Homo sapiens: one gene and its partners. The protein of the gene in region 2 interacts with the protein of the main gene of each other region in a pairwise test. Each region holds a gene or a part of one and is shown on either strand. Other genes may lie near its edges.

Region 1 (7,261 bases), on a different chromosome or scaffold from region 2:
GACATTCCCAATGTGTCCTACGTGTCACGCCCCTGCCTTTAAAAGGTTAGCCAACCAGGTGACCTTCTAAGGTACCTTTTTGGTTTTAGAGATGGGGTCTCACTCTTTTGCCCAGGTTGGACTCGAACTCCTGGGCTCAAGCAATCCTCTTGCCGCAGCCTCCCGGGTAGCTGGGACTAAAGGCACGTGCCACCACACCCAGTTTGAAGTTCGTTTTGGGGCTTAGTAACATACATGTTGGGATCAGTCACTCACAGACAATGCTCTATGGAAATTCTACCAAAATGCTTCCTGGAGGAGGAAAGACTCATCTCTTGCCACTTTTCTGGAATGCGTCCATGGACGTCAGAGTGTTCCGGGGTTCTAATTTGTTCACAGTTCTTTTCTTCCAGAATATAAAAGATGTAATACTTTTGGGACCACTAAATTAATAAACTCTGAAATCAACTGCACCAAGACCTCTAGGTTTGTTTTTAATAGACTAAATTTAAATGGCAATTTTAAAAACTGAAAAGCTTTCCTCATATTTCTAGAGTCAACACTGGAGGTTGACAATTAAAGGTGAGACAACAGGAAACCACACGCCCCATCACAGGTACAACCTGTGGCTCTTAGTATTGACCTTCAGTTGATGTGACTGTTAATATATTACAAGACTATGCAGCAGCGCTGTAAACACGTGCCCATCAAAGACCCTTGCTTGGGTAAGAAAGGCATGAAAGGGACTCTCACGACACCTTAATGTCTGGCCAAACACTGGGATGTTTCAATGATGAACCTGAGCAGGCACTGCTGAGCCATCTGACAGTGCCCCGGGCACTTACTGTTAACAGAGCCCTGTAAAACTGCCTGGCGGCTGGGATCAGAAGCCTCAGCATCCCTTGTTCTCTGTACTTATGGTACCCATGAAGTCAGTTCCAAGCAATTTTTGGATGTCCGTAAGGCTGAGAAAAGAAAGAAAACATAAGAGTGATCAGATCAGCAGTATCTGCAGCATGAGGAATTAACCTTGTTTTAACTACAAGCTAAAAGAACAATATAAATGGCTGTTTCATTTCCAGCTGAAAAAATCTGACCCTAAGCCATAAATGAGGCACTTGATATCTTTTTGGTTTTGAGTACTAGCCCTAAGAAACACTTTCACATATGATCTGTGAAACCCTGACCCTGACACTCTCACTGATCCACGGCCAAGTGGGTTTAGGAAATGCTGTTCCCTGTGACTGTGACAGTCAGTGTTTGAGGGCGAGTGGCCTATGGCAAACGCAGCACCTGCTCTAATTATGTTTCACTCAGTTTCCCAGTGTCATCTGACCACAAGGGAGCCAGCCCTCATTCTGCAGCATGTGTCCTGGGGAATGCACTCTAGGCACCGGGTGGCCAGGGTGGCCCTAGGTAAAGGAGGGCAGAGGGGACAAGCCAGCAGTGGAGGTGCTTCAGTCATCAGCTTCCTCAGGGCAGGGAAGGCAGCATTTGCTTCTCTGTGCTCCCCATGGTGCTGTGCAGACAGGTCCGGGAACAAAGACACTGAGAGGCAGAGAAACAGATACACACACGGGAGGGAGGGGAGGAAGAGGACACCCACAGGAGGGAGGGAGGGGAGGTGAGGAGGAGGACTGGTCTCTTGTTCATCGGGCTTCACTGTCTCAACAGTTGAGGCCTAGATCTACTGCTCTGACCCCTCTCAGCAGCTGTGGCCACAGCTCTTCTTAGATTGACCAAAGAGGGTGGACAGGCATGCAGCTTAGTAGGCAAGGCCAGAGCAAAATCACTTCAAGGTTTGAGGCCCAACCAAGGACTGGAACAGCCCCTGTGTCAGGGCTCCCTGCTGGTCAGGGAAGAGAGAAATACAAGAGAAGAGAAACAAGGAATAACCCGGACGGCCGGAGAGCAGACCCCGGCGCGGGGCGATGAGCAGGCCCAGGGGAGCAGGGGCCGGGCAGAGTCTGTCTTGCCGGTGTTGGCCTATATCCTGGCAGACTTCCTACCTTAGGCCGGTAGCCCTGCTCAGCCATAGTCTCCGCCTCCTGCTGCAGCAGGGCATCTGAGAGCTGCTCGACCCGCCGGGCCTCCTCCTCTTCCTCCTCCTCCTGCTGGTCTGCTTCCCATGCCTGCAGCCGGCGCTCTGCAACCTGAGTGCCAAGAGCAAAGTCACCACCCCAAGACAAGGCCCACAGGGCAGAGCCCTGCCTCTGATGAGGAAGGTAAGCCTGCGGCCCTACCCAGACTGGAGAATCCAGCTGAGCAACAGCAATGCACGTGCCAAGGAACGGAAGGGAGCATGCGGGACTTGAAAGGCTGTATGCATGGTGTGTACCTCATAGAAAGCTGGAGAGGCTGTATGCGTGGCGCTTACCTCGTGGAAAGCTGGAGAGGCTGTATGCGTGGCGTGTACCTCGTGGAAAGCTGGAGAGGCTGTATGCATTGTGTGTACCTGGTAGAAAGCTGGAGAGGCTGTATGCATGGCATGTACCTCGTAGAAAGCTGGAGAGGCTGTATGCGTGGCGTGTACCTCATGGAAAGCTGGAGAGGCTATACATATGCGTGGCGTGTACCTCGTGAAAAGCTCGGCCTGTGGCCAGGTGTTTGGAGGACTGTTCTGTCTTATGTATCAGGGACTGAAATGAAGAGAGATCTATGGCCCCCGGTAAGCCAACTGCTTGCAGAAGCAGACAGAGTAAAGAGAACAGACAGCAGTACCGGCCTCACCCACACGACATGGAGGATGTGGAGGGAAAGAAGCCACAGTCAAGAGGATGAGGACTGCAGCTGGGATGGAAACGGGAGCACCGTGCTCTCAAACGTGCGCAAGCCCTGCCAGGCAGTCCAGCGGCTCTGAACCCTGTCCCATGATGATGCAGAGAACCTGGCAGGCCCGGTGCCTCCCGCCCTTGGGCTCAGCCCTACCTGGGCTTCCAGCTCCTGCTTCCTGGCCGATTTCAGCTTTTCACTCTCCTCTTTCTCGCGACGAGCCAACTCTCTCACCTCCTCAAGATTTCGAATAAGTTGCTCCCTGTGTTTCAGGGATTCCTCTTGTGCCCGTCGGTTCTGCTCAATCTTCTCTTGTATTTGCTGTTGTCTCCCTGTCAGAACCTAACCTCAGCAGAAAGAAAAGGGCAGCTTTGAGGTTGACCCTAACAGATCCTGGTTCTACAAGCCTTGGACAGGCTGCAGCCACAGCAAGGCCCAGCCTCATCCTTGGGCCTCAGGCCCAGGTACGCAGAGGCAGAGCCAGATGACAGGATTTGCTCTCACGATGTCGGCCACGCTTGCCAGTATACAAGAAATGTTTCCCTCGCAACCCAAGACACACAAAATGTATCCAGACTGTGTACTATGGAGAGACAGCTGAGTGCCAAAGAAATCAAAGGAGATGGGGATGGAGCTGTCTCCCCGGGGCCAGAGAAACCTTGGAGCAACAAGGTGAGTCTCCTTCCTATCAGCGGGTTCCAAAAACAAGAGAGCCACAAGCCACACAGATGACCAGAGGTGGAGCTGGGGTGGTCCTCTAACCTTTTGAACCTGCTGTGTTTGAGACCTGGCCCCAGAGCCGTGTGACATCTGAACTCCAGCCCAGGCCACAGTCAGGAGCAGAAAACCACCTGACACTCTCAACAGTTAGGCTGCAGGGCTGGGGGGAACAGAAAGTGGCCGCCATCAGGAGGGAAATTTAAATGAGGAAAATCAAAAGGCACTGGAGAATTCTTGGTATTTACAAGAGCAAAACATCACCAATCACGACCCAATTTCCTGTGGATTCCAAAATACAGCATACTACCAGACACAACGTAGAGTTTCTCATTTGAAACCACTTTACAACAGCTTTCAGCCCATGGGTAACACTCTCTCTTCTCCTCCCAGATTTCTCTGCGGTTGGGGTATATCTTCCACGCACAGTGTACACACTGACCAGGAAAGCAGTTATGTCCTCCAGGTCACGGCTGTCATCTACCCCGAGGGGGGAAACGTGTGGGAAGAGCCTCAGGCACCAAGAGGCTCTCTGCAGCGTTTCTCAGAATGGCTTCCAATTAGAACAACACAGCACACCCATAAGAGGGAATGGAAAGGCAGCGGGTGACAGAGGACAGTCCGTGATACAGCCCCTGACATGCCGTTTATAAAGATGTAACAGCATGTCACAACGCTTGAAGCCAAATAGCACAAGACAGTAAGAAATACATGTAGAAAAAATGTCAGGCATAGAAACAGAAGAGCAGACAGAAGCAGCAGCTACGGCTGCATACAGGATGGGCTCTGGGGGACTTTTTTCCATTTCTACTTCCTGTACTTCTGAATTCTTTTCTACTAAGCTCATATTACTTTTTCAATGATTTTTAAAGCCCACTTAAAATGACCAGAGAAGACTCTGTTCCCAGAGCATCTGGCAGGGTGACTGACCATGGACTTCCAGACACCTGCCCAAGACCCAACAGCCGGTCCACATCGCCGCAGCTGGGATTACCTCGCTCATCAGTCTGTCCCGTGCGCTGCGCTCTCGGGCCCACTCTGCCTCTCTCTTTTCCCACATCTCCTTGGCCTCCTCCCTGGGCAAACACAAAAGGGATGACAGCAGGCTCCTCCCCGCCCTGGCAGGAAGCGAGCTACGGAACAGACAGGGCTGCAGGGCACATGGCTTCTGCAGGACCACACTGCAGATAAACATCCACATGCACTTTGAAAAGATTACAATTAAGGACAGCATCCACGGAAAGTACTGTTGGAAGTTTTTCATTTTTTTTATTTTTGAGATGGGTCTCGCTCTGTTGCCCAGGCTAGAGTGCAGTGGTGCGATCTCGGCTCACTGCAACCTCCACCTCCCAGGTTCAATCGATTCTAGTACCTCAGTCTCCTGAGTAGCTGGGATTACAGGCATGTGCCACCATGTCTGGCCAATTACTGTATTTTTAGTAGAGACAGGGTTTCACCATGTTGGTCAGGCTGGTCTTGAACTCCTGATCTCAAGTGATCTACCTGCTTTGGCCTCCCAAAGTGCTGGGATTACAAGCGTGAGCCACCGTGCCTGGCCCTGTTGGAAGTATTTTAAGTTACCCTTTTAATACCCCATCTCCTTATAAAAAGGAATTGGGATGACTTACACCGTGGCTGTTTAACACAGAGATGAATGAAACCATCAGAACATGGAGAGGAGGGCGCTGCCTGTGCCTGAACCCTGCCACCGCATGCCTGTGTCACTGATAGCTCACCCTGGACGGAGTGACCTCTTCAAGTCTCCGGGTCTCACAAGCCACCACTTGGCTGGATGTCAGGACTCAGTAAGATGAGGCCTGTAAAGCACCCGGCACAGTGTCCAGCATGCAGTAAGTGCTCAATGTATGCTACTTATTATTTGATGATTTCAATCTACTAGTTTAGTCTTTAGGACCCAAACTCAGTTTTATAGATGTAAGCAGCATTCAACATCTCTATAATAACTTCCTTCTGGCTGGGCATAGTGGCTCACGCCTGTAATCCCAGCACTTTGGGAGGCCAACGCTGGCGGATCACAAGGTCAGGAGTTCAAGACCAGCCTGGCCAAGATGGTGAAACCCCATCTCTACTAAAAATACAAAAAGTAGCCGGGTGTGGTGGCGGGCGCCTGTAATCCCAGCTACTCGGGAGGCTGAGGCAGAGAATTACTTGAACCCAGGAGGCAGAGATTGCAGTCAGCCGAGATCATGCCACTGCACTCCAGCCTGGGTGACAGAGCAAGACTCTATCTCAAAAAAAAAAAAATAATTTCCTTCTAAACCTCTAAGATTTCAGATGAACACATCGTTACTCTAAACCTTAATGATTTCCACCTCAGATAATACAAGGGAAACACCCCCAGAGGCCAGGTCCATTATGAAGATGTGCTCCTCAGGAATGATGGACAACATACACAGCTATCTCTTCTTCTTCTTTTTTTTTTTTTTTTTTTTTTGAGACAGAGTCTCGTTCTGTCACCCAGGCTGGAGTGCAGTGGTGTAGTCATGGCTAATCGGAGCCCCAACCTCCTGGGCTCAAGTGATCCTCCCACTTAGCCTCCCGAGTAGTTGGAACTACAGGTATGAACAACCACGCCTGGCCAATTTGTGTATTTTTGGTAGAGCCTGGAGTTTTGCCATGTTGCCCAGGCTGATCTCAAATTCCTAGGCTCAAGCGATCCACCTGCCTCGGCCTCTCAAAGTGCTAGGATTACAGGTGTGAGCCTCCACGCCCAGCCAATAGATATTTCAGTAACAGGTGACCCATGGGGCATTTCAAGGTATCAGAGTTGAGGCCAGGAGCATCCAGCCCAGTCAGCAGCTGCCACTCACCTCAGCAGCATCTGCAGCTCTGCCTCCCGCGCCCGCTCCAGCTGCAGCTGCTCCTCAATGGCCTGCTTCATCCAGGCCACATCGGCCATGACCTGCTCCCGCCTGGCCAGGTGGAGGCGCTGGCTCTCGTCCTCCTTCTCGAGGAGGGCCTGCAGGATCCGCCTGTCTGCCTCCTAGAGGAAGCAGAGGGCGGCACGTGGCTGGGCTGGACAGAGTCCTTCTGCAATGAGAGCCTACAGAGGGGCCTGCCCTCCCTTTCCTTTCTACATAGACATTCGTGATTCTACACAGTGTTCTCAAGACAGAGATGGGAAGATCCTGGATTATTTCTGGAACAGACTGGGGATAATCACGAGGGGTGGTTCAGACACTGCACAGGCCTAGGAGCTTCTCTCTGGCTAAAGGGAGACCCAGCCACCACCACATGCCCTCGGATACACCTGGTTGCACAACTTTTTGGAATACAACTTGGCAAAAATCCCACTTATAAGAACAAAGACCACAGTGACACAAAAGTGCAAAACACTCGTTGCAGCTTTTAGGTAAGAGGGAAAAACCAGAAACAACCAAAATGCTCCTTGGTGGGGAATTAGCTACTATGTACATCAACATAATGGAAGCATTAAAATAATGCAGGAGGCTGGGCACTGGGGCTAATGCATGCAATCCCAGCACTTTGGGAGGCTGAGGTGGGAGGATCACTTGGGCCTAGGAGTTCAAGACCAGCCTGGGCAATGTAGCAAGACCCCATCTCTACAAAGCATTGTGATGTACACCTATGGTCCCAGCTACTCGAGAGGCTGAGGTGGGAGGATGGCTTGAGCCTGGCAGGTTGAGGCTGCAGTGAGCCGTGATTGCGCCATTGCAATCCAGCCTGGACAACAGAGCAAGACCCCATAAAAAACAGCTGCACACCAGGACCAACCATGCCACTGTGCCCCATGTCCTGCCCTGACCGCAGT
Region 2 (8,155 bases):
GGGGAGTGACAGATGCATAGACACATCAGGCTAGAAAGGAAGCCACTGAGGGCAAGCAGGGAGGGGGCACTGAATGGAGTTCAGGGAACCACCTCTTGAGGGGGCTTGAGAACTCCAAGGCTTAAATAGCCAGGAAGAGTGGGAGCTTCTACCACCCGAGAGGCTGGGATGGGGCGCGAGTGGCCGTACCATGCTGAGCTGGGACTGCAGCTCGATCTCCAGCTCCTGCATCGTGCGTCTCAGGTCTGTGATCTCCGTCTTGCTGGTCTGGATCATTTCTGTGTTGGAGGCCACCTCTTTGTTCAGCTCCTCAGTCTGTAGGTCATGCACAACAGAAGTGAGCCCCGGGGCCTCCTCGGAGACTCAGGGACCTGGGGCAGGAAGGGCAGGGCAGGATATAAGGCCCACCTTGCTGAAGAACCAGGCCTCGACATCCCGGCGGTTCTTCTCCGCCATGGCCTCGTACTGCTCCCTCATCTCTGCCAGCACACGGGTCAGGTCCACACCCGGTGCTGCGTCCATCTCCACATTGACCTGGCCGGCCAGCTGGCTGCTGAACTCCTTCATCTCCTGCAGGATGGGAGGGACCCACTTAGAGACGGAGAGCAGAAGAGAGACCTGAGAGTCTGGCGTCACACATGCCAATCCTGGCTCTGCCCGTAACACACCCCAACCGCTGTTCCCCATTGCACATGAAGAGGTTTGGTCACATGGACCCCTCAGCTCTAAGGAGTTCTCTGCTGCTCTAGGTCCTACCAAGGGAGGACCCCGAGACTGTAGGGCCCTGATGTGAGCTCACAAAGCCAATCAGGAAGTCAACCATTCATACGGGCCACCTGGGCTGGCTGTGGGCCTGGGCTACCAGACACTGCCCCTTCCTCTCCATGAGGACACCTGGTTTTGTGGGGTAGGTGTGTTTCTGAACCACTAAGCCCCAGGCCAACTATGAGGAAGTACCAACAGCCCCACTCTGCCTCCCACTGACTTAATCTCGTGAAAATCTGGGAGGGCTTCCTGGAGCCACTGTCTTTCCCTCTGGGCAATTTAAGTGAGTTTTGGGAAGAGGTTCCCCACCTCTCTCGGGTTCAGGGGTGATGGGGGCCAGCTCTCACCTCTTCGTGGTTCTTCTTCAGGTAGGCTAGCTCCTCATTCAGGCCCTCGATCTGCATCTCCAGGTCAGTCCTGGCCAGGGTCAGCTCATCCAGGACTCGGCGCAAGCCGTTGATGTCAGCCTCAACGCCCTGGCGCAGGGCCAGCTCATTCTCATACCTGAGGAGAGGGAGGCCAAAGAAGGAAGTGGGAGGGGTCTTGGCTGCCTGAGTCAGAGCCAGGAGAAGGCCAAGTAAAGTGGGCAATGCAGGAAGAGGAGAGAGACGGGGGAGCGCACTTGAGCCTGAAGTCGTCCGCAGCCAGCCTGGCATTGTCGATCTCCAGGATGACCCGGGAGTTGTCGATGGTGGTGGCCATGATCTGCAGGAGACAGAGTCGGTGTCTAGAGGACTCCTCTCTCTCCCCTGCTGCTCTCTGCTCTGCACCCAAGGCCAGCCCCTCATTGAAAATCACCCCTCACTGACAATCACCCCTCTGACACCACCAACAAAAATCTGTACGGCTTCTGGGGTGGGCAAAGTCCAGCCTCACTTTCAGTGTCCATTTCTTGTTTTGTCCCATCCAGCCTCCTTGAGACACCTGAGGAGCTGCCTTCCTTATCTCCAGGGCACGAAAGACCAAGGAGGCAGTATTGCCTGTGGGAATTGGTTGCCCAGGAGAGTGGGGCAGTGGGGTGCAGCCAGCTCTGACAATAGCTCTCTCAGAGACACTCCACCAGCCCCACTGTGGACAACTCATGGTCACTGCCTCCTGCACACCTTGGACACAGCCATGGATCTACAGAACATTCCAGCCAGTAGCAACCTGGAGGGCAGTTAAGAAGGCATTTTACGAATGAGGAACCCAGTCTTAGGGAGTAAAATGGTGAGTGAGTGGGTGGCAGAATGTGTAATGAGTTCCCAGGTCTCCTAAGACCCAACAGTACTTTTGGCACAAAAGACCTCTTTATAGGAAAAGACAAGAGGTTCTAGCATCTGGAACTCATGAGGCCACACTCCAATCCCATTCTTGCAAAAGAGGTAAAGGAATACTTTATGCAGAAGCCTGCAGGGTGCATGAGGTAGGGAGGGCGAGTTGCTCTTTTTTTTTAATTATTTTTATTTAATTAGATACAGGTTCCACTCTGTCACCTAGGCCGGAGTGCAGTGGCACAGTCATAGCTCACTGCAGCCTCTAAATCCTGGACACGAGCAATCCTATCACCTTGGCCCCCCAAAGCACTGGGATTACAGGTGTGAGCTACTGCCTCTGGCTCTTTATAATTGCCCCCACCTGTGCCCCTGTTGGTCCTAACCAGATTCCCAAGACCCCTCTCTCCCTCCCCCAGCACCACCAAGTTGAGAAGATGTGCACTGGCCTCTGCACCTGGACAGCAGGTGCATTCCAAATTTGCTGAGATTACATACCAGACAGTCATTGCCTGGGCAGGAAAGGATTTCCTTGAGTCAGCAGTAACACTGACATTAGAGCTGTGTACAGGGTACCAGCCACCTGCTCCCCTCTCTTTGACATCCGAGGACTCACCTTGTCCCGGAGCTCTTCAATGGTCTTGAAGTATTGGCTGTAGTCGCATTCTGGGCTGGTTGGGGTCTGCTTCTGGTACCAGTCATGGATCTTCACCTCCAGGTCAGCATTGGCCTCCTCCAGGGCACGTACCTTGTCCAGGTAGGAGGCCAGGCGGTCATTGAGGTTCTGCATGGTAATTTTCTCATTGCCAGAGAGGAGACCACCATCGCCACCACCAAAGCCACCACCAAAACCCCCACCAACGCCCCCTCCAAAGCCTCCACCGAAAACACTACCAGCCCCTCCACCAAAGCCACAGACCCTCATGCCACCCCCATATCCTCCTCCTGACCCTGAAGAGACAAACCTAGCAGAAGAAGCTGAGATACTTCGGCTTCCACCTCCCCCAGAGAGACTCCCCCCACCAAAGCCACCTCCCCCAGCCAGGAGGGAACCCCCTCGGGTTGAGCCACCCCCAAAGGTGGAGGAAGAAGTTTGCAGAAATGTGGTGGTCATGGCCAGGTAGCTGGAGCCCGTGAGTTCTCAGCAAACCCAAGAGATGCTGGCAGGAGGTACCAGGCCAGGCTGCACGCTGGGGCTCCTTATATACCCTTCAGAGGGTGTTGTGGGACCTCGTCTCCTCCCCTAAAGCAAAGCCAACTCCTTCTGCCTTCCTGACAAACACAGCTGCCTGCACACCTTGAGTGGGTCATGTGAAGTTTTTCTCTTCTATTTTTTTTTAATGCAACAAAAGAGATGATTCAGAATTAATAGTGTTTTTCCCCAGGGCACGGTTTTAACACTTGGATTACAGGTTCATCTCTCCATGCCAGAAGAGAGCAGCAGGGAGCGAACTCTCATCACAGCACAGCTACCAAGGCCTCTGCCTGTACTGAGAGCAGCTCAGGCCAACTGTGCCCTCAGCTGGACTTCACTTCCCCGAGCCCTGAGCCTCTCCCCAAGAGGACAGCTCCGTGTTCTTAGTTTGGGAGTCCACTGGCCGATCATTATGCTGTGTTATCCAACTCAAAACCCTGTGAGTGAGTGAGTGAGTGAATGAGTGAGTGAGTGAGTGAGTGAGAGACTGCAGGGCTCAGGGAGAGTGGAGGCCCTGGGGATGGGAATGCAGGGCCCCTGGGGGCAGGTGGAGGACAGGAGCCAGGGACCTTGAGTAGTGTTCCAGCTGAGGTGACCAGAGGAGCCAGCATCCATCCCCTTACCTGGTGCTGCAGATGGACTCCCCTCCTCCCACCTCTACTCCCCTCCTGCCATCCTCCAGCCTGTGTTCCTGGCACCCTCACAAAAGCCCAGCAGGCTTGGGACTGACAAGGGGATGACTGATGATCCCGACACCTGCCAACTGCACGGCGCTGAACCTTTGCTCGTTTCTGGGATGTGTTGGGGCAAACCTCCGCTGATAAGGCTGGGGCAAGTTCCAGGAAGCCCCTGCCTTCTCCAGGAGAGGCATGTCGCTGCTTAGCAGGGCCAGATTAGCCCCCATCTGTCCTGTCAAGTGCTGGCTGGGGACGGGCCGCTGCAGAAGGCTCTATGTGCCTGAATGCTGTGGAAGGGAAGAGAAGGGAGACTGGCAGGCAGGCTGGAAGACACCGGAGATCTTGAAGACCAAGGCATTGCTTCACACAGACGGGGAGTTGAACACTCAGGAGAGCCCTTTTCTCTGCCACCAGCTCAGGGACACCTTTCCAGGGACACCTGATACCTGTGGGCAGTGCCACTTGGAGGTGTGGCTCAGCCCTCTGGACCTGGCCCCAGGGCTTACAGAAACTCAGGAGGAGGATTCCTAGCCCAGGTTGCAGCATGGTGAAGTGGACAGGGCTCTGGAGTCCCTCAGGCCCGGGTTTGAATCCTGGCTTTATCAATTATCATGGTAAGACTGTGAGGCCTGGGTTCAAATCCTGACCCTACCAATTACCATGGTAAGACTGTGGACATTTACCTTTTTAAGTCTCTGTTTCCCTGTGGCAAGGGGCGCTCTCAACTCTCACTTCCAGGGAAGCCCTGTGGCCCAAGAGCCCCCATCCTGCCCCCTCCTGGATCCCCACCCAGGTGCCAGACATGCAGGGGCCAGGGTGCATGACCGGCACCTGCGCCTGAGTGCCCTCACCAGGAGGGGCTTTGTCGTTGGGCATCAGAACATGCCCTGTGAGCCTGAGCATGTTCTTAGGCTCAACGGCATCGACCTTCCATAGCCAGCTCCTATGGGGCAACGCAGGTTGTTCTTAGGTTCTTATTTTGCTATAATAGCATAATCCTTTACTTCTACCCTGCACTTTGTGATTTACAAAGCACTTTTGCATCCATCACCTCCTCTCATCCTCACAACAGAGGGTGACCCCCACCCAAGATTCAGAAAGAATGAAATTGAAACTTGGAGAGGTGAAGCAACTTGTGCCAGGTGGCACCACTGGTAAGGGGCAAAGCCAGGACTCAAACAGGTCCTCACACCCTCAACCAAACAGGGCACAGGGAAAGAGTCCTTCCTGCAGACCCCAAATTCCTGCATCTGAGCTGGGCTGGCAAGGGGAACTGCCAGCCAGCAAGGCTGGGGGTGGGTTCCTTCTCATCCATCTTCGCAGTGAGCCTGGCCTCCAATGCTGGGCACAGACAGTGTGGTATTGTCTCATGGGTGGGAGGGTATTGTCTTTTCCTCCGAAAGAAAAATAATCAAACTCAGATCATCCAGAGCTCATTAAAAGCCTCTGCAGACATTGTGGCCCCAGCAATTAACTCAAGAACAATTACTCGCCTTTCACCCCAGGGTGAGGAAGGGCTGGACCCCAGCCAGATCCCCTTCTGCACCTGACTCTCCTCCAGCAGCCCCTCGAGGTGGCTTTCTCTATACTCTCAGGCCCAGGCCAGGGGCGGCAGCTGCCCCCCTCACTGCCCCACGCACAAATCCCTGGTTTCAGTCCAAACCGCTACTGTGAGCTCCAGATCTGGGTGGGGCCCGGAGCCTCCTCATTAGCACCAGGTGGGATGGCCTTGCGAAGATAAAGCTCTGTCTGGCCCCAGCCCAGGCTGTAGCCCCGGGCCCTGCCCCAGGCAGCCTGCCCAGGATGCTGTGCCAGTTTCTGACCTTTGCCCACTGCAGCCAGATGGGGCCATCTGTGGAGCTGGCCTTTTCTCCTTAGAATGAGGCAGTGCAGCCCAGTGGAAAGAGACTCAGCCTCTCTGAGCCTGGTTCCTGATTTAAACTTAGGCCATTAACACAGACTCCCCTCAGGGCCATAGTGAGCATTTGAGGGCACAAGGAGAATGAAGTCTCCAACAACCTTAGAACCCTCCCACACCTCTCCTGTTCCCCAGGGAAATGCCAGGGAGAGGGGGTGTGTCCTGGAGCCCAGAGACTTACCTTTAAACCCCTCTTTTCCCATTTACCAGCTGTGCGGCTTTGGGTAATGCCGCCTCCTCTCTCTGAGCCTTAGTCTACCAATCAGGAAAATGGAAATAACTCCAGCTCAGCCTGACTCTCAGTTGGAGCAAGATGACTCACAGGAAATGCTCAACAGACTGAAGTGGCCACGATGACCAGCAGGATGTAAAGGCACTCCCCTCAACTTCCCCACTCCCCTCTCCCTCCTATCCCAGGTCTCCAGGCTGAGACAGAAAAGTGTCCCCAGTCCAGCCCCACCCTGCACTGTGCACACACAAAGGCAGGCTTCATTCCTGACACTCAGGCCTGAGACCTGACAGTCACCTGCCCCACCTGTGTGGGCCCAGACCCCGCCCCGCAGCCACATTCCAGGGGCCCCTGAGGCAGAGGGAAGGTTTCAGCTGTGACAAGGGAGGCTTTCATGGGCAGGGACAAGCGCCTCTGGGCAGTCCCAGCTGGGGGTGCAGCCAGGCCTCTCCCTCCAGCTCCAAGGCTTCCTGAGAAGTTAAGTTGGGGGTGGTGGTTTGTGGGTGCTGGAGGCCAGAACAGGACAGCTAGGGAGGGGGCAGAAGGGGGTCCCAGTCCAGGCTACAGCAGCGGGGCTCTGGGGTTACATGTTCATAACCAACCTTGAAACAGCTCCTCCTTCGGGATTGCCATGGCCGTGATGGGGTCTCCAGCCTCCTTAGCAGGGTGCTGAGTACATTTGGCAGCATGCGGGCGTGGAACTAGTGTCCCTCACTTGCCCCCATCACTCATAGGGTTGGGCCTGCAGCCCTCACCTCTCCACCAGGAAGAAGTGGGACTTCTTTTGGGGCCTCTTCCTTACCTTGAATTGGCCTCAGTTCTTGGCAGCTGAGATGTAAACCACAGGAGCAGGGCCATACCTACCCAAGGGCAGAGTTGTACCAGGAAGCTGGGACTTCGTTCTTTTGCTGGCCCAGGGCAGGCCCCAGGCAAGCCAGGGTTGGGGTCTCTGTGGGAGGTCTGGGTCACTGCTGGGTCCCATTCTGGGCTCTGGGCCCAGGTATGGGCTGGTGGGCGTTAAAGGGCTTATGCAGGGCTGCCCCAAAAATGGGTGAATGTGTTAGTGCATGCACACACACAACACACACTGACAGGTACAGCCTCCCCAGCCTTGCTCCAAGCGGGATGCCTGGCCCCAAACCCCCAGTTTCAGTGAGGTGGAGAAATGTGTCGGGAGGAACTGCCCCTAGGGATCCCCGGCCTGAGCCTTCATAGGGCACAAGACTGGAATGTCAGCAAGACCGGCACAAGTGGCGTCAACTCCAGGAGACCACCTGGCAGGGGCTGGCACCATGGGCTAAGAATCAGGCAACTTAGGTTCTAGTCCTGGCTCTACCATGTAGTTGCTGTGTGGCCTTGGACAAGTTACTGAACCTCTCTGAGCCTATTTCCTGATCTATAACATGCAGCTCATACTACCTTTTAGGGCTGTTTTTAATTCAATGGCACATAGTAGGTGTTCAATAAACATTAATTTCACACAGATACCTCAACGCCCTGGGGAGTAGAGTAGAAAGAAAACTAAATCTAGAAGCAAAAACAATTTCAAATCCCACCTTTGCCATGCATTAGAGCAGTTACATATAGAAAAAAACACTTCACCTCTCTGAGCCTTAGTTTACTTTTGTAAAATGGAAGCAATGCTTATTTCATGAGGTTATTTTAAGGAACGGGTTAAATAAATGAAGACTTCTGTAAACAGGAATTACCATTACAGGCAAAGTATGTGAGTACCCTCCCCTCCCTTTCCTGGGACAGAGTGAACTTTGGTTCAAATAAAACCTAAACAGGGCCAAGGCAGGACCCATCTCTCCATGGGCTCAAATAACAAACCGAACGACCTATTCTCTCCATGGGCTGAAATAATAAACCAAACGTCCTTCCTCCCTTGGACCATAAATTTTTATTGGCAGGTCAGGAGAAGAGCCGGGGGTAAGGGTCCCTTCCTTCCCATCCCTCTACCCAGAAGACACCCTCCAAAGGACAGCAGAAGCCCCAGAGCCTGCTGCCTCAGAGGACCTTGGAGGCAGACAAATTGTTGTAGTGATCTTCCTGTCCCTCGAGCAGGCTGCGGTAGGTGGCAATCTCCTGCTCCAGCCGCGACTTGATGTCCATGAG
Region 3 (7,479 bases), on a different chromosome or scaffold from region 2:
CACTTTCCTGCAGGTCTTTGTTGCAAGTCTAACCTCTGACCCTCTGCTGGCCTCAGCCCCAACCCCTGTCCAGAACTCCCACTGTGCTCCCTGGCCAGTGCCTGTTCTCAAAACTGTCTCCAAATTCACTTCTCTCTTTTGCTACCCTAAGGGGAGGGAAAGTCCAGGATGGCAGGAAAAGAGGGGAAAACCGATCCCTGAGCCAGTTCTTGGGAGGGAGGGGAAACCCAGGGAGGAAGGACAGGGGAGTGAGGGGCGGGGGTATTTTGGAAGAGGAGAAGGCTTTTCTTGTCCCAAGAGAGAAGGGAGCACTGTCTGAAGCAGTGGCCCAGCTGGGGGTGTGCAACCCCGAGGTCACCCACTTCAAATGGCCTCTCTGTGTCTCTCCCATGGGGCAGACTCGGGGTTCAAAAGCCTTCTCTCTGATCTTTGGCCGGCCCGGTTCCATCTCCCCTCTCCCCTCCATCCTAGGATGTCCCTATTCAGCTCTGCCCTCCTTCCCACGGGGCAGTTGGACCTTTCTCCATTCACTTCTCCCTGCAGTTTCTCCCTAGAACACAAACCCACCCCACCCCCTCCACCACCCCAGGCTCCCTATCCCTTCTCCCCAGAAAAACTGCAAGTGCTCTCACCCTGGTGACCCTGCCCTCACTGATTCAAGCTCGTCACTTTAGGCTCTCCCACTGGATGGGCTGGGGCAGGTCACACTCAGGAAAGGAAGGAAAGAAAAGGGGGTTGGAAACTCAGAGCCCAAGGGAAGGGAGAATGAGCAGCCTGGCACACCCTGAAAGAGACACACCCAGAGACAGCCTTTGCTGGGGCAGGATCTTTTGGGCTCAAAATGGAAAAGGAGGGCTCTGAGAAGGAAGGGTGTATGTGCAGAGCGAGGAAGGGTGGTGGCAGGAATTAACAAGAAAGAATAGAGGAAGACAAGAAAACAGGGGTATAAAAAAGAAAGAGACCAGAGTCCAGAGAAAATTGACAAGTGGACTTCTAAGAAGTCTGGCTTGGCTGCTTCCCTACCTGTTTGTGGTGTCTTTCGGGGGACCCCTTGGCAAGGCAGCTGCGGCTGAGACGGAGGTAGCCCCCCAGAACCAAGATCTCCTCGGCAGTTGGGTACCGCTTCTTCCCAGCCCCCGGGACTGCAGCATCAACTGTGGCTGGAGAGGTTGGGGTGGCTGGGGTCGCAGGGGGCACAGACCGCCGGGGGTTGACGGTGAAGGTGTGTCCACTGCGGCGGGGGGCCCCCACCCCTGGCCCTGCCTTCACCCCATAGAACAGGCGGCTCATGAGGGGATCCCCAGGAGGTTGGGGGGCAGTTGGGGCTGGGGGTGGGGGAGACAGAGGGGCTGGTGGTGGGGGCTGGAGCTCCACTGCTTCCTCTTCCTGCTGTCTCAGGCCTCCAGTCCCAGCGTCCTCTGGTGGGAGGGGGGAGGGCACAGAGCAGCAGTTCTGCAGGGCTCTCAGAGGCCTGCCCTGAGCCCCCGCCTCCTCCTTCTCAGCCTCCCCTTCTCCAGCCTCCACACCGGGAGATTCCAGAAGCTTCTCTGCTGACTCTGGAGGTTCTGGTTTCTGAGTTTGAGCCTCTATGTCCCTGGGTGTCCATTCTCGAGCCTTCCCGGAGTTCAGGGTCCATTTCCACCCTTCTGTTGGCTTCATGCCCCTCTCGCCATCTTCCACAGGCCTCTGCTCTGCTGCCTCCACTCCTGCGGAACTGTTGCCTTGGGCCTCCCTTGTCAGGGTCTCGGACAGCTCTGCAGTCTCTTTTGGAGCTACCCCTGGAACTGGCCACTCTTCTTTTCTCCCACATTCTTCCGAGTAGTCTTGTCTTTCTTCTCCTGACCTCAGCCTCCACTCTGTTGCCTCCAGTTGTACCAAACTCTGTTCCTGAGACTCTCTGGAGTCAGGTCTCCATTTATGGGCCTCTGTCAGGCCCAACTTCTGGTAGGCAGATTCCCCTGGGCTCAGTCTACTTTCCACCTCTTTTCTCCTGGGGCTTTGCTCTCGAGACTCTGCTAGTCTCAGACTCCGCTCTGGAGTTTCTCCAGGACTCAGCCTCCATTTCCATGCCTCTGACAGTCGGGAGCTCCTGTCTCCCACCTCTCCTGGGCTTTGCCTCCAGTCCCGAGCCTCCAGAGGCCTCAGGCTCAACTCTTGGGCTCCCCCTATCCCCAGCCTCCTCTCTCTGGTCTCCCTCGGACTTAGTCTCTCTTCTCTTGACTCTCTTCCCTTGGGGCTCTGATCCCGCATCTCCCCAGGGCTGGGTCTCCGCTCCCGGGCCTCCAGAGGCCCAGGCTTTCTCTCTGCTAGCAGCTCTTCACTCCGTTGTTGTTGCTGCTGCTGCTGCTGCCGCTCCTGCCGGATGAATCGGTTCTGGTGCACTGGCCCGATGGCCTCCAGAAGGACCGCAGACTCATCCGGGTCTGGAGGTCCAGCCTCTACAGTCCCTAGCACAGGGCTAGGCTCCCCAGGGGACAGCCCAAGCTTGGCCCGGCGGCGCTCCAGGAGCCCTCGTTTCCAGGCTGGCATCTGGGACAGGCGCTCCCGTTCTGCTTTCTCTCGGCCTCGAACGGACGCCTCCTCCTGCCGGCGCCGGGCTAGCAGCTGTAGCTTCCAGTCTGGGATGGTGGCCATGGTCGTCTTGAGGTGAGGGTAGGGAGCACTGGGGACAGAGAACAGGAAGGAGAGGCTCCAGAGAGTGAGACAGCCCGGGGGTGAGACTGAGGGTGGGAGGAGAGGAAGTGGAGGGGGAGAGGTGGGACACAAAGCAGGGCAGAGGGGCTAAGGATGAGGACAGAGGGAAAGACGGAAGGCAGAGAACTGGGGAAATGGAAAAAGTGAAGAGAAGTTGTGAGCCCAAGTTGGGGGTGGTGGGGGTGATGTGAGAGGAAGAGTCCGGATTGGAGGCAATGAGGGCAGGAGCCAGATGTGGCAGCACAGGGTTAATGCGTATTAAAGACCGTCTCTAGGATGTGAGAAAGAGAGAGAAGGGCGAAAAGGAAAGTTGGCGTGAGGGAGAAGAGAGAAATGTGGCAGGGGTGAGGGGAACCTGGGTGCAGGCCAGGCTGCCTCAGCGATACCCCAGGGAGGCTAGTGTGGGAAGGAAGGACCAGGAATCCCTGAAAGGACCAGGAGGCAACGGGACCTGAGGGGGTGTTGGGGAGGCAAGGAGGGGCGGAGAGCGAACAGGTCTAGAGGAGAAGGGAAACCAGGGAAGAGGGGAAAGGAGGGCGGCGGCAGCAGCCGGGCGCGTCTCAGCGCGGGCCCCAAAGGTCCCGGCTCCGCTTCCAGCACCGCTCGGGCCACGCCTCTCCCCAGCCCCCACCCCTCTGCCCCGCACTCCGCCCCCGAGGCGGGTCGGGGGAAATAGCCACCCCCGAGACTTTCGGAACCCGGGCGTCAGGGCTGCCAGCGCGTTCCCAGAACCCTGGCGTCCACCCCCACCCTGTCCTGTCACCACCGCCTGCCTCCCCCACCGACTGCCCCACGCGACCCCAGAGTGCCAAGGGCCGGCTCCATGTCTCTTCTCCCCGGCGCCTGCAAGTCCTGCGCCCCGTCCCCGCTCTCATGAAGCCGTGACAGAGCCGGCCGTCTCCACCCCGCTGTAGCCGCACAGACTGACAATCTCGGCACAAAGAGGAGACAGCCAAGGTCCGGGCCAGGGACGGGAGCAAGGACAGGGGCGAGGAGACACCCACTCCCCAAGTCTGAGCCCCTCAGTCAACTCACAGGCCGCGGGACCCCCGGGGGAGGGGGTGCGGAGGAGCCGGGCGTCCAGAGAGAGGAAGAGGAGGAGAGAGGGACCGAGGGAGATCCGGAGACTGGAGGGAGGGGAGGAGGGAGGGAGAGGAGGAGGGAAAGAGGCAGCAAAGGAGGAGGGACGGAGACAGAGACCAGGGGGCCGGGCGGGGGCGGCGACCGCTTTGTCTAAGGACAATGAGGAGAGGGAAGGGGGCGCAGGGCGGAGCCGAGGAGAGGGCGGGGCCTAGATCCCTCCCACCCCGCGTGGGACTCGCTGCGGGACTGCCCTCTTCTCGCCCCAACCACTGGTCCTCCGCTCTGTCCCCAGGGGCCCTCACCAGCTTCCCGCCCGGACACGCCAGGTGTCCAGATCCCTTCCCCCAGCTCGCCGACCCAGGGCGGTGGCCCGTGACTCAGGCCCCTCGTGGGACTTTGGGAGGAAGCGGCAGCTGCTCCGAGCGGGGCCCGCCCTTCCCATCTCCTGCCGCTCCTCCCTACGCTTTTGCCTTCTCATCTGGGTCTGTAGGTCCAGCCTCTGAAGTCCTTTGTTTTGCGGGGTCGAGGGCAGCCGCCAGGCTGTGGGGGGCTTTGTGGATGGGCGGCAGGAGAGGCGCTCAGAAGCCAGAGGTTTTGGATGCTCCCTCCCCTACCAGAGCTGCTGCCCCGACTCTTTCTAGCTTCAACCTGTCTCCCTTGGGTCTACAGGTCGGCTGCCGGGAAAAAGGGGATTTGAAGGAATGGGAATGGGGACCCGGCCGCTCTGGCAAAGTGGGGGCGGGTCTGCGGGGGTGGCCGAACCCCAGCGGTTGCCAGAGGGCGTGGTGGCTGCCCAGACTCCAGTTCGGTGCTCCCAGGCTCCCTCTGGCTTTCTTTCCCAAACTCAGCCCTGTAGCTTGGGAGACACTGACAGACTGCATGCCATATGTAGAAAAAGGCTGACTTTTATTTTCCTGCAGAGCATCTTCCTCGGGAGAGCAGGGAGCCCCAAGTCATCGAGTTAAGAGCAGGAGAATCCCCTTGACTAGGTTGGGGTCTGAGCCCAGAGGCAGGGCCTAAGGAGGTGCAGAGACTAGGGCCGGGAGTGGTGAGGCAAGGTTGGGGCCTGGAGGGACAGCTATGACCGTTGAACTTGCAGACCCTGGTCCACCTTCTTGGAGTGGAAGCCAGCGGTGCAGAAGGGGACCCCTGAGGCGCAGAGGCAAGTAACAGTGCCAGGGGAGTGGTCAGGGCAGATCCTTTCCTTCTCAGGAGGCTGTTGAGGGGGAGAGTGTCATGCTCTAAACAGTGAAGGGACAGATGACTTCCATACCCCACTCTTCCTTGCTGGTGAGAAGTGGACCTTGGAGTTCAGTGGCTGAAACTCAGAATTTAGGGTATGGAGCTGGACCCAGAGAATAAAGTCTCAAGTAGTAGAAGGGGCATCTCCTTCAGTCCATGGATTTGGGCCTCTGGCATGAAGCAGCCAGGGCCTGGATGTTAAGGATTTAGAATTCAGTGGGAGAGGAAGAACAGGGCTTGTAACCAGAGTGAGCTCCTCACTCTGCCTCCCCATCCTGGGGCCGAGAGAGCAGGTGGAGTTTTCTTTGTAGCTGGGCCCGGAGGTAGCGGAGGTCTTGCTGATCAAGCCCGTGAGCCAGGCCCAGGTAGAGGGTAAGGAGGAAAGCAAGGAGGAGACGGTCCGTGCCCAGGGTAGGCACCACCCACAGCACTGTCAGCAGCTCCACACACACTGGGTGGCGCAGGTGGGAGAAGAGTCTGAGAGCCCGGGGAGACTTCAGGGCCAGAGGCTCGCCCAGCCCCAGCACATGGTAGTATACCTAAGAGAGGGAGAAGAGCTTAGAAATGGAGTCAAGCCCTTTTCTCATCTTGGGCACTTCTTTCCTCCTCTTCCAGGCACCACCCTTCTAGAACTCAGGCCCAGGAACCCCCCTTCTGAGACTTGGATCCCTGATCCTGACTTCTGATCCATGTACCTTCCCCAGGCCCAGGAGGCCCATGCTTGCTGCCCTTACGAGGGAAAGTCAAAGGGAAGGGCCACGAGGGAGAAGCAGGGAGACAGTAGAAGAGCATGGGAGGAGGGAAACCCTTGAAAGGGAACGAGGAGTTCTAAAATGGGTCAGAGGTCATAGGTAGGGATCTCGGAGCCTCACCTGTTTGAGGCCCATGAGCTCAGCATAGTCAAAGACGAGAAGGATGCTAAAGATGAGGAGCCAGGAGATGACATGGAGCACAAAGCAGAGGAGCGGCACCCAGGTGGCCCATGGCTCAGCCCGAGCCTCCCACAACACAGGGCCTTTGGGTATGGGCTCCCAGTACCGCATCACCAGCTGTGGAAGGATAAGGGGCTGGGTATCCCAGTGGCCTAGTCTGCCCGACCTTGGGAGACCCAGACCCAGATCTGCCCCCACCACAGGCTAGCCTGCAACTCTCCCCCACCTCTCTCCTAAGCATCACCACCAAATATTCACCATGTGGAGGGTGCGTGCTGGGTGAGGTCCCAAAGATGTAAGGATGGCCTGTCTCTACCCTGAGAACTTATAGAATAGATGGGGTGACCTGATAGCTACGCAAAGTAGTAGCCTGTGCCAACCACCCAGTGAAAAGACAGACAAGGCCTTCTCTTCAGACCTAGGGAAGTGGTTTTGAAGAAAGGGTAGGACTGAAGAGAAGGGATCTCAAGCAGGACATAAACAAAGTTGCAGAGGTGAGAAGCATATCTTGTGCTTAGGGAAGGACAAGTACACCCTTCTTGATAAAAAGTAGGATATGTGCTGTGGAGGAATGGAAGCTGAGATTAGTTCCTCAATTCTCCTCCTGAACCCATATTTTGCCCCTCCAATCCACGGCACCCCTCCCACACTTGGTCTCCCTTGGGGACTCAACTGCCAGGATTTCATACCTGCAAGGCCAGGGCCTCATACCTGCAAGGCCAGGGCAGTGCAGGCCACATACAGTGACCTCTGAAGGACCCCAAAGTACCGGGATGTCCATGCCTTCACTCTTTCAGCTGCCATGAGGCTGTGCTGCCCAACAAATAGAAGCAGGAGCCCCAGATCCCATGCCAGGGGGGCAAGGATGCTGCGGTCCTGCAGGGCAGCCAGCCATCCCTGGCGGGCATCTACAGGAAGTTGAGGGAAAAAGAGACAAAAGATCGAAACAGTGGCAGAATGTTTCCCCCACCCTCATCTCCTCTTGGATCCCCAGGCCATGTCCCTTACTGCTTTCAAGAGCCTTAATGCTTCCTCTCTAGGCTGTGCCCATCTCACTTTTCCATCCCTAGTTTCTGCCCTCTTCCCTAGGCCTCCTGCAAACCTGGGGAAGAGGATTTATAGAACACCACATGTTAGGCAGTTGCAAAAAGCATGGCTGGAGAGGCCACGCTGGATTGCCCCTCTTACTTCGGTTCTCCAAATGCTCCTTCTTTTTAACACTCTCCTCTCAACAGTCCTCTCTACAAAACACTTTACTTAGAATACTCCGGTCACCGCCCTTTTCGGCTCCCTCAGTCCTCACTCTCCCGCCTCTCCAAAACTCTAATCCTTGAGTTCCTAATTTAGAACTCAGGTCTCCCTCCCCTGTAGCTTCTCGGCCGCTTTCAAGGTTCGAGTTCCCTCTCTTGGACTTCCCCTGTCATTTGTTTCCAAGCCCCGCCCTCAATCCCTCTCCTACGGCTCCACCTTCCTCCTCCCAGTTCATCCTCGATCCCTCCCGCTCACCCGGACCACCAGACTCCGGGAT

What was found. The genes of interacting proteins can lie anywhere in the genome.
Region 1: the proteins of KRT15 (region 2) and TCHP interact in binary tests that used the Homo sapiens proteins (3 or more experiments, as listed by UniProt).
Region 3: the proteins of KRT15 (region 2) and PPP1R18 interact in binary tests that used the Homo sapiens proteins (3 or more experiments, as listed by UniProt).

What each region holds. Positions count from the first base shown.
Region 1 is NC_000012.12:109,910,274-109,917,534, reverse strand, and holds part of TCHP (trichoplein keratin filament-binding protein), read right to left. Parts: intron 6,473-7,261; coding exon 6,300-6,472; intron 4,545-6,299; coding exon 4,463-4,544; intron 3,094-4,462; coding exon 2,908-3,093; intron 2,133-2,907; coding exon 1,989-2,132; intron 945-1,988; coding exon 912-944; 3' UTR 1-911. UniProt on the Homo sapiens protein: Tumor suppressor which has the ability to inhibit cell growth and be pro-apoptotic during cell stress. Inhibits cell growth in bladder and prostate cancer cells by a down-regulation of HSPB1 by inhibiting its phosphorylation.
Region 2 is NC_000017.11:41,515,696-41,523,850, forward strand, and holds the start of KRT15 (keratin, type I cytoskeletal 15), read right to left. Parts: upstream 3,196-8,155; 5' UTR 3,133-3,195; coding exon 2,635-3,132; intron 1,523-2,634; exon of another isoform or gene 1,471-1,522; coding exon 1,388-1,470; intron 1,270-1,387; coding exon 1,113-1,269; intron 592-1,112; coding exon of another isoform or gene 571-591; coding exon 409-570; intron 316-408; coding exon 190-315; intron 1-189. Other genes in the region: KRT19 (keratin, type I cytoskeletal 19), read right to left, coding at 8,048-8,155.
Region 3 is NC_000006.12:30,683,385-30,690,863, forward strand, and holds the start of PPP1R18 (phostensin), read right to left. Parts: upstream 3,262-7,479; 5' UTR 2,663-3,261; coding exon of another isoform or gene 2,635-2,662; coding exon 1,024-2,634; intron 1-1,023. Other genes in the region: NRM (nurim), read right to left, coding at 5,277-5,558, 5,892-6,086, 6,663-6,859, 7,458-7,479.